2 separate regions of the Homo sapiens genome follow, and region 2 is linked to region 1. The links come from fine-mapping of genetic effects on gene expression. Tissue or cell type: whole blood. Region 1 holds a variant in brackets; the other region holds the start of a gene. All regions are shown on one strand. Distances are from middle to middle.

Region 1 (2,756 bases):
GATGCTTCTGGTTCATGGTGGAAGTCAGCTCCCTCCAGTCCTGCCCAGGGTGACCCTTTAGACAGGGCCAGAGAAATTTTTTTTGTTTGTTTTTGAGATGGAGCCTTGTTCTGTCACCCAGGCTCCCAGGTTGGAGTGCAGTGGTGTGATCTTGGCTCACTGCAACCTCCGCTTCCCGAGTTCAAGCGATTCTCCTGTGTCAGCCTCCCAAGTAGCTGGGACCACAGGCATGCACCACCACGCCTGGCTAATTTTTGTATTTTTGGTAGAGACGGGATTTCGCCATGTTGGCCAGGCCGTTCCTGAACTCCTGACCTCAGGTGATCTGCCCACCTCAGCCTCCCAAAGTGTTGGGATTACAGGCATGAGCCACTATGCCCAGCCCAGAGAAATATTTTTAAACCTGGCTGGCAAAGTCCTCTGCTTCCGGGTTACCCCCTAGAGAGAGTCTTAGGGATTCTTGATGAGGGTGGAGGTGAAACGCACAAACCCAGAATCCAGTACTGGAACCTTTTCAGTAGACCCATGTGGTCAAGCTCTTGCAGTGTGCCACGCCCTTCATAGGCATGCACTCAGCTAATCCATTCAAGAGTTTATCATCTCATTCTTCTGGATGAGAAAACCAAGGCACAGAGAGAGTCTTTGCTCAGATCCCGTAACTAGTTAATCAAAGTACTGAGAATGGAACCCTAGTATTGTGATTCTGAGATGCATATTTCTTCTCCTGGGTCATACTGCCTCTCAGTCTGAAAAAGCATGTCCCATAGTATCATTTAGTTTTTGGAAAATGAAAAAAAAATTGTTTTTTTTTTGAGACAGGGTGTTGCTCTGTCACCCAGGTTGAAGTGCAGTAGCGTGATCTTGGCTCACTGCAACCTTGACCTCCTGGGCTCAAGCGATCCTCCTATGTCAGCCTCCCAAGTAGGTGGGATCACACCCAGCTGGGATTACCACCACACCTGGCTAATTAAAAAATTCTTTTCATAGAGATGGGGTCGTGTTGTATTGCTCAGGCTGGTATGGAACTTCTGGGCTCAGGCAATCCTCGCACCTTGGCCTCCCAAGGTTTGGGGATTACAGGCATGAGCCACTGCACCCAGCCAAAAATTTTGTTTTTAGCTTTTTTAAAAATGTAGCTAAAAAATTTTACATAAAAAAATACTGAGACAGGATCTTGCTCTGTTGCCTAGGCTGGTCTTGAATTCCTGGCCTCAAGTGATCCTCCTACCTCAGCTTCCCAAAGTGCTGGATTATAGGTGTGAGCCACTATGCCTGGATGAAAAAAATAATTATTTTATTTTATTTTTTTTTTTTTGAGACAGAGTCTCACTCTGTC[G/A]CCAGGCTGGAGTGCAGTGGCACAATCTTGGCTCACTGCAACCTCCGCCTCCCAGGTTCAAACGATTCTCCCGTCTCAGCCTCCTGAGTAGCTGGGATTACAGGTGCGCACCACCACGCCCAGCTAATTTTTGTGCTTTTAGTAGAGTCGGAGTTTTGCCATGTTGGCCAGGCTGGTCTCGAACTCCTGACCTCAAATGATCCTCCTGCCTCAGCCTCCCAAAATGTTGGGATTACAGGTGTGAGCCACCACTCCGGGTAAAAAAATTCTTCATGCTTAGCATGCTGACGCCCTGAATGCGGGATGACGCTGCTTTGCTGGTGTGGGTGCAGATGCGGTATTTCTTTGGTGATCAGTGAGCCTCAGCAGAGTACATGCGTGACAAGGGACACGGTCTGCAGAAAGATTGAGAAACTCACGGTAAACAGCCCTGAGCTACTTACCCTGAGTGACCCACTGCACGTAGGCCCTAGTTGTTCTCAGCCTCGGGCTTTGGGGAACTTTGGCCCCTGGATCTTTCTCTATCGGGTTTTGGTGCTTATCTTTTCTGGGCAGTTTATGCAACAGGCACCCGTTAACAGATGCCCTCCGTGGACAAGTCCATGTTCTTACCTTCGAGGGGCTTGAATTCTAGTGGGAAGTTGGACCCCAACAGAGAAAATGCGCCCCCTGCCCCACTGCCCCACCATGGACTCCTCCCACAATGTTGATTGTTCTGATGGACACTCAGTGGCTATAGGAGCGGCATCTTCCTGAGTGTCTTGTCAGCTGCCCTGAACCGAGGGCCTTGTGTGTTTTCTGTGTCCTGCAGCTGGGCTCAGTGGCCTGTTCCCCCGTGGACTGCCCCATCACCTGTACCTACCCTTTCCACCCTGACGGGGAGTGCTGCCCCGTGTGCCGAGGTGAGTGGGACCAGCTGCCCCACGTGCCAGGTTCCCGGCCAGGCCTCGGCTCTCATGGGCTCCTGTCTCCCCTTCCTCCACAGACTGCAACTACGAGGGAAGGAAGGTGGCGAATGGCCAGGTGTTCACCTTGGATGATGAACCCTGCACCCGGTGCACGTGCCAGGTGAGCTGGGCCTGGGAACCCAGGAGCGGCCCCGCCAGAGGGCAGCTTCTTGCCTTTTGTCCCTTTGCAAAACATGGAGCCCTTTAGCCAGCATAAATCCATCCTCCTGCCATCCTCCGCCTTTAATTAACTGCCAGAATATCTTTGGTTTTGACCATCTCCTCCCTCTGTGGAAGTCCAGAGGGAGAAGTGGTTTCCCAAAGGGGGTCCTGCCATAGCTGGCTTTACCTGTTCTCCAGGCGAGGGCTCAGGCACTGCAGCCTCTGTCCTGGGATCTTTCCGTGGGTCCTGCTGCTGGTGCAAGAGGCCCTTGAGGGCACTGCCCAGGGCAGGCAAGATGCTCTGGGCTTCC
Region 2 (2,609 bases), 67 kb before region 1:
GCCAGGTTTGTGACCCATTTTACTTCTGGGAAACAGACTCAGAGAGCTCTAGGGACTTGTCCAAGGTAATACAGGTAACAGCCAGAATCTAAACCAATGTCTAGTTTTTCTACAGAGTGTGTTTTTACTACTGATAATTCAGTGCCTCCAAAGTCAGGCAGAGTCTCTGCTATGGGAAAGGCAAGATGTAAACCACGATGACTTTCTAGCTTTTCCTCAGTTCAGCCTGGTTCAGCAGCGTGTTGGCCTCTGTGTGGGTGCACAATAGGAAGAATCAACATAGCTCTGCCTCAGCCTACTTGGGGTTGTGGGGAGGGTCTTAGGTAAACCAATTCCTCCCTAAGCCTCAGCTTCCTCATCTGTAAAATGGGGGTTGGCTCCTCTCTGGCATTCTGCGAGTGTGCCAAGCCACGTGGTATTCCTCTTGTTCCCGGGGAGCCTGTTTGATGTGGGGTACCCTGGAGGCTGCAGGGCTGACGGCTCTCCTGGCTCATTAAGGTTCCCTACGGAGAAATACTGGTTTTGTGTTTGAGGTTCGAATTTGTAGAGCAATAGGGGCACTAATAACGTTGGGCAAGCAGACCGGTGGGCCCTTTGAAGTCTGAAGAATCAACGCGCAAAAGGGAGGAGGTGAGCAGGTGGTCGTTCAAACGTCAGGCGAGGGCACCAGCTGGATCTGGAGGAACTGAGACAGTGAAAGGAAAGCAGGCAAGGTTCTAGTCTGGGATATGCACGAATCGCGGTCTCCCTTCCCTCTCTATGCCTCCGCAGTCCTTCCCGTTCCCAAAGGAGGAACAGCCCGAGGGCTCCTGGAGCAACGGAAGGAGGACTGGATGCGGGGAAGGGCAAAGGGCGCGGAACGGGGTGGGGAGTCTGCGGGCGAGCTCGGAGGACACTGGCGCACCTCCCCCGCCGGCTCACGGCCGCATCCGCCACATCCGAAGGCGCCGCGACTTCCCGGAGACCCCGAAGCGTGCGCTCTCATCCGGGTCCTGCGGGCGCTGGCGGAAAGAGGCGAGGCGGTGCCTCCGGGGGCGGGGCCTCCTTCGGTTGGCGGCCTCGGGCTTCGGGAGTCCTCCAAGAGGCCAGGTGAGGCCGTCCCGTGATGCCCCGCGCCCCGGCCGCTCTGGCCTGCAACGTGTCTCTGGGGCGGAGGCAGCGGCAGTGGAGTTCGCTGCGCGCTGTTGGGGGCCACCTGTCTTTTCGCTTGTGTCCCTCTTTCTAGTGTCGCGCTCGAGTCCCGACGGGCCGCTCCAAGCCTCGACATGTCGTACAACTACGTGGTAACGGCCCAGAAGCCCACCGCCGTGAACGGCTGCGTGACCGGTGAGGCTGCCGGGGCCGGAGACCCCGGCGAGTGAGGGAGTTGGGGGGAGCCGCGGCCTAGGGAGGCCCGCCGCCCCGGGGGCGGCCGGGCAGGAGTGGGCCCGGCGAATGGAAGGCGCTGGCGGCCGAGGAACCTCCCCCAGCACCGCGACCTCGAAAGAGTCGTCCCTGTACGCGCTTTTTGGGGGTTGGAAGCCGCTCTCGAGGGTCCCCTTTCGTCCTGGGGAGGTCATTCGGCCTCGAGAACAGGGCGGGCCCAGTGAGACAGAGGAGTGTGAGTTGGTTGTGCGGTGTCGTTTGGGCCCGGAGATTGGCTTTCTGTGGCCAGGAAAAGGGGAGGTGGTAATGACGACTTTGGGGTCAAGATTTTCCTGTGGGGAAGTCTGGGGGGCCCAGGAGGTGGAGGGATGTGAGGAATGCCCGCATTATCCCACAGAGGGAGAGGAGCCCTCTTCAGGCTAACCCCTTTGCCTGGGGCTGTTGTTTACATGAGGGCCCTGCTGGAGAAGAGGGTTTGGTTTGCCTGGCCCAGTGCTGGGTTTGCCTTGTTGACGATGCGCTTGGATTGTTAAGGACACCGATGTTCAGAACCCGGGAAGAGTCATCTTAACCCACATTCTCAGCTGAATATGCAGACCCCAAGCTTGCATGTTTATATACACCCTAATCATGATTCCAAAACAAAACTGTTGTTCAGAGTTGGAGGTAGCTGAGTGTGGATGGAGGTATTGGTAGACTGCCAGGAGGGCAGGGGGTGTGGACAAAACAGTGTTTTCATATAAAGCTCTGGGACTTCTTCATTTGACTTGGTCTGTCAGATAAAAGTTTTGTGAGACTTTAGATGAAGACTGGAAGAAGTGAACACTTTCTCCGGCATTCTCAATTAGAGCCTGCCACTGTAACTGTAATAGAGTAAAATTGGAGGGGCAAGAGGCATGAGAAGGGATTACGCAGTCATTGTCATTTGGAGGACACACGGCTCTTAGGTCCAGTCCAGTTTTCTTAGTCTGATTAGGGAAGTAGCTTTGTTGAATGCATGAACTGAGACTCTTTGAGGTGCCGGATTTGGCAAGAAGGGGAGTAGCTGGAGGGAGTTGGAGAAGTATGTGAAGTAAATGAGAATTCTGGAGGTATTTAGACATAAGTGATAGGATTATTTTGAAGGGATGGGAGGCCCTTCCCCTGAGTTCAAAAGTTAGAGGGTCTGTTCTTTCAGGACACTTTACTTCGGCCGAAGACTTAAACCTGTTGATTGCCAAAAACACGAGATTAGAGATCTATGT

Evidence for each region. PIP is the estimated chance that this variant, and not a neighbour inherited with it, causes the effect.
Region 2: DDB1 starts here. The variant in region 1 is fine-mapped to the expression of DDB1 in whole blood (TOPMed, PIP above 0.99).

Annotation. Positions count from the first base shown.
Region 1 is chr11:61,264,604-61,267,359 of GRCh38, reverse strand. VWCE (von Willebrand factor C and EGF domains) reads left to right here. Exons shown (of 20, transcript NM_152718.2): 17 at 2,148-2,238; 18 at 2,322-2,404. Among named protein-coding and RNA genes, the nearest start is that of PGA5, 25 kb to the right of the region's middle. RefSeq lists an enhancer at 1-1,044. The variant G/A (reference allele first, on the strand shown) is at 1,337.
Region 2 is chr11:61,331,625-61,334,233 of GRCh38, reverse strand. It overlaps DDB1 (damage specific DNA binding protein 1), which reads left to right and starts at 1,129. Exons shown (of 27, transcript NM_001923.5): 1 at 1,129-1,326; 2 at 2,543-2,609. The coding sequence starts at 1,266. It overlaps TKFC (triokinase and FMN cyclase), which reads right to left and starts at 1,006. Exons shown (of 18, transcript NM_015533.4): 1 at 905-1,006. RefSeq lists enhancers at 522-1,044, 1,045-1,567 and a silencer at 867-1,126.